2 linked regions of the Homo sapiens genome follow. The protein of the gene in region 1 interacts with the protein of each later gene in a biochemical or structural test. Each region holds a gene or a part of one and is shown in the gene's direction. Other genes may lie near its edges.

Region 1 (3,753 bases):
TTGCATAAGCAGTTCTTTACTGGGGACAATTAGTACAAGAGATTCTATTTTATGTAGGAGAACAACTGATAGAAAGTTGCTTTATTTATTTGCTTTTTTCCCTAGGGAAAGGTGCAGACCTGGGGAGGAAGAAATGCTGCCTGTAGTACATGGGGAGAAGGTTCAGTCATGCTTGCATTTCCCATTCATTTCTGGATGTGTGCTTCCTATGTCTTCCGCTTCTTTTGTTTATTGTTTACTAGGTGCTGTGAGGTCTGCTCTTTAATATGCTTTGCCCTTTGTTCTTCTGCCACAGGGTGTGAAGCCATCTATGTTGTTTGCCCTTTGCTCTTGGCTACCTCTAAATAGTCATTTGTAAAAGAAAGAGGAAAATCACATCTTGCCCATCAGCTTTGTGTACATCATTCGAAAATTTTATCTTTAATATACAAAGAAAGTACAATCCTTCTTTGTGTGGTTACAGAGGGGAATGGTCACACTATGCTCTGGAAAGACATCATCTGGAAAACCAATAGGTAATTATTTTAATGTAAATATAGTGAAAAGCATCTTTATGTTTTAGAGTTTTGCTAATGCTTTCAGTGACTGCAACAAATTAACATACCACTTTCTTGCAACAACTCTATTCACTCTTCAGTTTATTTAAATGCCATTAGTTTTAGACTGAAGTTGATCTGTGGAAAATATATGTGTATAATACCAATTCAAAAAAATATATAAATTGTTTTGTTTGTTAAATGTATTGGAAATATTTAAGGCTTAGTTTCCAAGTGAGAAAAGGCAATAAACTTTAACTTTAAAATCAAGAATGTTCTGTGTGTCTATCTTCAAAAATCTAAGATTATTTCCGTTATCTATCTAGCTTTCTATCTTCTGATGAGCATTCAACAACAGCTTTATCTTTTCAATTAGTGACACCGTCTTAAATCACAGCAGCTCTTAGAAACAAAACTGGCACAAATACCCTCGCCTCTCAATGGATTTACATACTATCTTGATGTTGAAAAAAGTTGTAGACATGGAAAACAGCACAGTACAAGGGTGATGCTTATTTTATCTGGGGTTTATTGCATGGGCAGAGGCTGTCATTTTCCCATAGTGTCTTCATTTATTATGCTAATTGACTTTCCAAGCTCAGACTGGAGGGTGTCTGCCCTGTGAACTATTCTCAGTTGGAGGGTTTTAAAAGCAAACCTGTTTTGTGCCTGAATGAAACAAAAAATCAATGTGTTTCTTTTCAAAGAGGGAGGGTCAATACCGTGGTTGTTTTTGTTCCCATCCAGTTATGTAACCGTGGGGACTTGTTTCTTTGCTTTCAGGATTTGTACGAAACACATTAAAGTTAAACAATAGCGGAGGCTTAGGAGTAACCCTCGAGCTGCGCCTTGGAGTGTGTGTCCCTGGGATTGGGAACCTCCTGTGAGTTCCATATCAAGTGCTGCTGTGTGTGTGTGTGTGTGTGTGTGTGCGTGTGTGTGTGTGTGTGCGCGCGCGCGCGTGTGTGTGATTAGCCAGTACGCAGTACTTCCCCAGGGTTGTGTTTCCTTTTTCCTGAGATTTGGCGAAGGGTAAAGGGTCGGAGTCACATGGATACAAAGCTTTTGATTAATGTCCAAGTCACTGCTGTGGCTGCCGAAGCCGCTTCCCCTCCAGCCCCGGCCGTGTGAGGCCAGAGCAGCGGGGCCGGGCGCGCAGGGCCTGGCCGGAGCCCCCACTCCCAGGAGTTTCCTCTGCAGAGCCCCGCGCCCCCCGCGCCGGGATTTCAGCCCGATCCCCTCCTCTCCCTGCGCCCAGCCTCTCCCCAGCATGTAAAGTCTTCTGTCTCTCCTCGGAGTTGGCGGAGGCGGCAACTTTCCATTCTCGCCGCCGGGGGCCGGGCAGCAGCGGGCGCGCGGGTCAGCGCTCAGCACGGCGGGCAGCGCCGCGCTGCGCACCGCCGCCGACCATGAGCGAGGACAGCCGCGGAGACAGCCGCGCCGAGAGCGCCAAGGACCTGGAGAAGCAGCTTCGCCTGCGCGTGTGCGTGCTCAGCGAGCTCCAGAAGACCGAGCGGGACTATGTGGGCACGCTGGAGTTCCTGGTGTCGGTGAGTGTCCCCGGCAGACGCAGGGGGACGTCCGGGCGGCGCGGGGCGCGGGTCCCGGAGTGGCTGCGGGAAGGACGCGCGGCATTGTCTGTGCGGGGACCCGGGACGGGTCGGGGCATCACAGGCGCGGGAATCCACGTGTGGACTCTGCGTTCGCGGGCGCGGTGACCCCCGCGGGGATTTGTTGGTGCCCCGAGACTCACTGAGTTGCGGGGGCCTTGGAGACCTCCAGGTCTGAAAAGTTAGCTCTAGAGAAGAGAGCTCCAGTCCAGGGAATCCCGGCTGCCCTATCTTCCCTCACTTTTCTTTTACCCGCCTCCCCAGTCTGCTCAAGTGCACTGTGTAATTGATTTTCCTTCTTGTTCTTTCCTGGAGACTTTGTTTTAAAGCTTTGGTTTTGTGATTAAAGGTCCAGTCGGCTACATCCAGGTACACTAAGTTAAAAAAAATCCTTGAATGTGCTCGAGCTTGAGTTCGTTACTCAGATAACATGGCAGTGGCCGCTTTAGTTATGGTCTTTGAGACAGAGGATTCTGGTGTAGGGGTACAGAGAGAGCAGCGGGGTGATGATCTCTAGCAGCTGTTGGATATTAAAGCCACATGTGGCGCTCACCCTGTCCTAGTCTTACAATTCCCTCCCCCCCGCCCCCCGCCCCGGCTTAAATCTGTCTTCTGCTCAGTTTCTGGTCCCCTGTTTACATGGCCCATGAGAGTGCTGTAATCAAGCTTCGGGACTTCGTGGAAGTGGGGATGTACTTATATTCCACGTTTCTGCTTGACTCACTGCCATCTGCTTTGAAAACGTCTCATTCATTTTAGGGCCGAAGGGGCAAAACTGAGTGAAAGTAACTGCTGAGATAACACTCAAAAGTTGAATTTTTCCTATTCATTGCTGAAAAGACAAAGAATTTGAGCCTTGGCTTCTTTCCACCCAGATTCCTGGGAGAGCATCATTCAAAGAACCAGGAGCTTTAGTTTTTGTGATCTCATCCAAATCCTTCTCCTTCCAACAACCAATTCCATGCCCCCTTGGTCTGAAGGAAAATATTTCAGGTGCCAAACTTCCTGCTTAGTGTTCTGAAATCTGTCAACTTTCTGCTTATAATCATGACAGATAAAATTCACTTCTTGGCTGTGGCAAGAAGGAAAGAAAAATGTCTCAAGTGATGTAAAATGTACAGGCTGCGTTATGGTTGACTTCTCAAAATCAATATACTTGACTTCCAGGGGCCACATTCTCTGCAAATATACAGGTATTTGAGAATATCCTGGTAACTGGTGGTTTATAGAATTATTATATACTTCCTTGTAACAAAGATTGTCAAAAAAGTATGTTTTTAAGATTTGATTTTTAATAGCTTTAAATTTGGCTTTCATGAAACTTTTTTGGTAACAAAGTTCTTTGTCTTTTGAAGAATCTGAGTCATTTCTTACATAATTACTCTTTCTGAAGATCTGTGAACAAAGTACTGTGCAGAATGCTAATTTGCAGAGACAGTTAATCTAATTATATTAAAAACCAATTTGTTGATCTTTATTTAAAATATCAGTTTTTCTTCTAATCTTAAACCTGATCATTACAACAGAAAACTTACTGTTAGTATATAGAGTTAGGTAAGAAAGTGTGGAAAGTATAAAATAAATTTTCCCCTTTTATAAGGAGAACA
Region 2 (3,653 bases), on another chromosome or scaffold:
AAAGAACTTGGGCCAACATATAATGGGGTGGGGGGAGGGGGGAGGGATAGCATTAGGAGATATACCTAATGCTAAATGACGAGTTAATGGGTGCAGCACACCAGCATGGCACATGTATACATATGTAACTAACCTGCACATTGTGCACATTACCCTAAAACTTAAAGTATAATAATAATAAAATAAAAATAAAAATAAAAAAATAAGGATCCAGACCTGATTCTATCATTTATGAGTACTATGTCCATAGGAAAGCCACTTCAACTCACTGTACTTTTTCTTACCTGTAAGAGATCAAACCTGATAAAGTATCAGGTTTATTCCAGCTCTAACACTCTGAAATGCCACAAAATGCACTCCCCAATAAATTAAGATTAAAGGAATGCCCAAACCCCAAACATGATCATTGTGATCATTTCTTATGAAACATAAGAATGAGACATAAGAATTTTATATGAGATACTGGCAGAATTTGCTGAGTCAGTCTCAGGCAACATTTAATAAGTAAATATGCAGCTAAGCAGTGGACTATAATGCTTTTACACAGCCAGAAAATAGCAATATTCCTAAAATTAATGAAAGCATACACAAATCCACTCAGGATGCTAGGACACAGGCAGCTGAATGATATGAGCTTATAATCTATTCTTCCCAGACTATTTATCTTATCACAGCAACACCCTGAAGCCACATGCAAAGGATGAACCAGACTCCCCAGTGCTCTATAGAACCATGAGTGAAGCAGCTCTGGTGAGAAAAAGGATGAAGCCTCTGATGATGGACAGAAAAGAAAGACAGAAAAATAGAGCCTCTATTAATGGACACTTCTATAACCATGAAGTAAGTGAGTTACAATTCCATTAATGTAATATAAAATAAGGTTCCCTGTTTCACTAACAATACCACCCAATTCAATTCACAATTTAAAGTCATAATAATAACAGTAGCATGTCTAACATCTTGGGGGCACTCTCTATGTGCTAGATATTAAAGTAAATGTGTTTTAAATAGATTTTTACTGAATTATCTTATTAATCACTAAAACAATCCTATGAAATAGGTACCATTATTTTCTTTACTTGACATATAAGCTAATTGAGGCTTATGGAGATTAAGCAATTTGTCTTAGATTATGCTACTCTTAAGTAGTAACTCTCAACCTGAACCCAGCTTTGTCTGACTCCAGAACACAAGTTTTTAACCACCATGATGGGTGAACTCTATCACTGTGCCAAGTATTAAAAACATGCAGATGAGGCAGCCGATGTCTCAGCCAGCACGGAGCTCAGGGATTGAGCAGGGAAACCAACATACCAACAATAATACTGGAATAATGTAAGTGCTACAAAGTGGTTGGATCAAAGGACATTTGAACGTGAACATTTAAATAAAAGGAAAAAGCCACAGGCCAATTTATTCCAATAAATCAAACTTCTCATGTTGCCATGTTCCAGGTCTTTTACCTATACACATACCGTTTTTATATAAGTGTAGTTGTAGTTTAGATACAATTCACATTCTGCTTTTTCACTGAATATGTGTTAAATTTATATGTGCCTTTCCATAGTGCTTGTAAGACATTACATTTTGCTGAAGGTAGGAAATATATCATCATTTTTTTCCAGAACTCAAATATTTTTCATGTGATGTACTTTAGCAATCATTCATCGCTCCATCTCATAAATACTTAGCACTTACACTGTGCCAGGTATCTTCTGAGGCCTTTAATAAGAAATAGGAACTCATTGCTTTGTAGGCTTTTTCCTGTAAGGATTTCTACTTTATTTCTTCTTCTTCTACCCTTGGGGGGTAACGATAGTGTGTCTTTGGAGCCTGGTGGGGAGAAATCTCTCTTCTCAATTATTTATTCATATCAGAATTTTAGGGTTCCAGAATCATTCTCATAGCTATAAAGTAGCATTGATAGTCCCCCACAGAGAGGTACCTACCAATTGTCCTGTTTCCCTCTTCACAGAAATTGTGTTGTATGTCATTATCTTGTGGGGTAATTTGTGTTGAAGAAGGAAAGCCACATTGCTCCAAGCAAGTGGCTTTCAGATTGGATCACTTGTGCTGGAAATGAAATTGACACTAGGTTGGCAGCACGGAATGGTGGTTAAATGCTTGGGCCCTGGAGCTTGACAGCCTGGTTTTACATTCTTGCTGAGCAAGTTTCATTCTTCTTACTTTACAAGGCTGTTGATGGGATGGAATGAAATGAGGTAAGTTCAGCATAAGAATAGTACCTGGCACAAAAGAACTCGGTCTACATTAGCTTATGTTGTTGCTGTTGATTGAATGAGCTCAAGCTGGGACTATAGATATTTTACACAAATGTCATTCACTGCAATTTAATAACTAGCAGAAAACAATACAAACAAAAAAGAAAAAACAAAGCATTCTATCAACAATTATACAATGACGGACATCTAGGAATTTTAGTGGATATGTTTCTTAAGTTGCTGTGTGTCGTAAGATATGTTTTTATACTATGAAGCCCCTTGTTAATGCCAATATTGTTAGGCTATGAATAACACACATATTAAAGGCTTAGATTGTCATATCTGGAGATTAGTTATGGTGAATATAACTTGACCAGTAGTATATTTCTATCAATGTGATAGTAAATGATAGCAGGTTTCATTATATGTTTTGGCCAACACAACTGATATAAAGACTATAGATTTAAATACTGCTCTGAAAAACAAATTCACTATATGTTGACATTTTAGAAGAGCTCTTAGAGATTAGTCTTACTATCTTATTTTATAAATGAAGTCATTTATCAAATATATGTTAAGTGAGTCAATAAAGATGTTAAATGAGTTGACAAAGTTGGAGTTCGTGGGCATTTAGTGGGCACTAAAATCTAGGTCTCCTGAATGGTAATCCATGTTATTGTCATAGTGCATGAAGCTTCTTCACATAAACAACATCAAACCACGTGTACAACATATCATATTCACCTTAGCGCAGGATGAACATGTGGTTTTTCAGGGCTCCATAGAAATCGTAAATGTCACAGAATAACTTATCAATGCTCTAAAATGTCTACAAATATTGAATTTTCTCATACTTATAAAAGTTTATCCTAGACACTCTCCACACATCTTCTCAGAAAACTTATTTACATATCCACATTTTTACTCACACAAATGCCGTGTGTGTGTGTGTGCGTGTTACATGTGTGGGTGTTATAAATGTTTGTGTCTGTATACTTTGATGTTAATTTACTGATCTCTCAATATAGGACTTATCTTTTTAACAGTCCAATGAGCCACCCCAAAACCCACCCATCTCTACATCTGCTGAACCCACCCCATTTCTACAGAGCCTTGGAATACTTGGAGATTGTGCATATAAATAAAATATGTGGAAATAAATCCTTACTTAATATCTCTATCCGTTTTTAAATATGCATCTGGTGACATTCTTTCTTACTTATTTTGAAATCTTAAACTGCACTAAAGAGGGGTGTAATTGTCCAGTGAAAATGTTATAAGCATCCTCAAATGGTGTTTTACCTAATTTACTCTAGAAACAATATAAAGCTGCTTAAAAGAACACATAATATTCAAAAACAACAAAGAAAAACAAACAAAAACAAAACAAATTTTTTAAATTAATGACCTTGGATTTTTTTTGCCCTATAA

What was found. Proteins that work in one complex are often made in the same cells at the same time.
Region 2: the proteins of PREX2 (region 1) and RASSF6 interact in a test that uses a peptide from one of them, tested with the Homo sapiens proteins (one large-scale study listed by IntAct).

What each region holds. Positions count from the first base shown.
Region 1 is NC_000008.11:67,950,450-67,954,202, forward strand, and holds the start of PREX2 (phosphatidylinositol 3,4,5-trisphosphate-dependent Rac exchanger 2 protein), read left to right. Parts: upstream 1-1,596; 5' UTR 1,597-1,945; coding exon 1,946-2,086; intron 2,087-3,753. UniProt on the Homo sapiens protein: Functions as a RAC1 guanine nucleotide exchange factor (GEF), activating Rac proteins by exchanging bound GDP for free GTP.
Region 2 is NC_000004.12:73,582,367-73,586,019, reverse strand, and holds part of RASSF6 (ras association domain-containing protein 6), read left to right. Parts: intron 1-655; coding exon 656-840; intron 841-1,186; coding exon of another isoform or gene 1,187-1,201; exon of another isoform or gene 1,202-3,414; intron 3,415-3,653.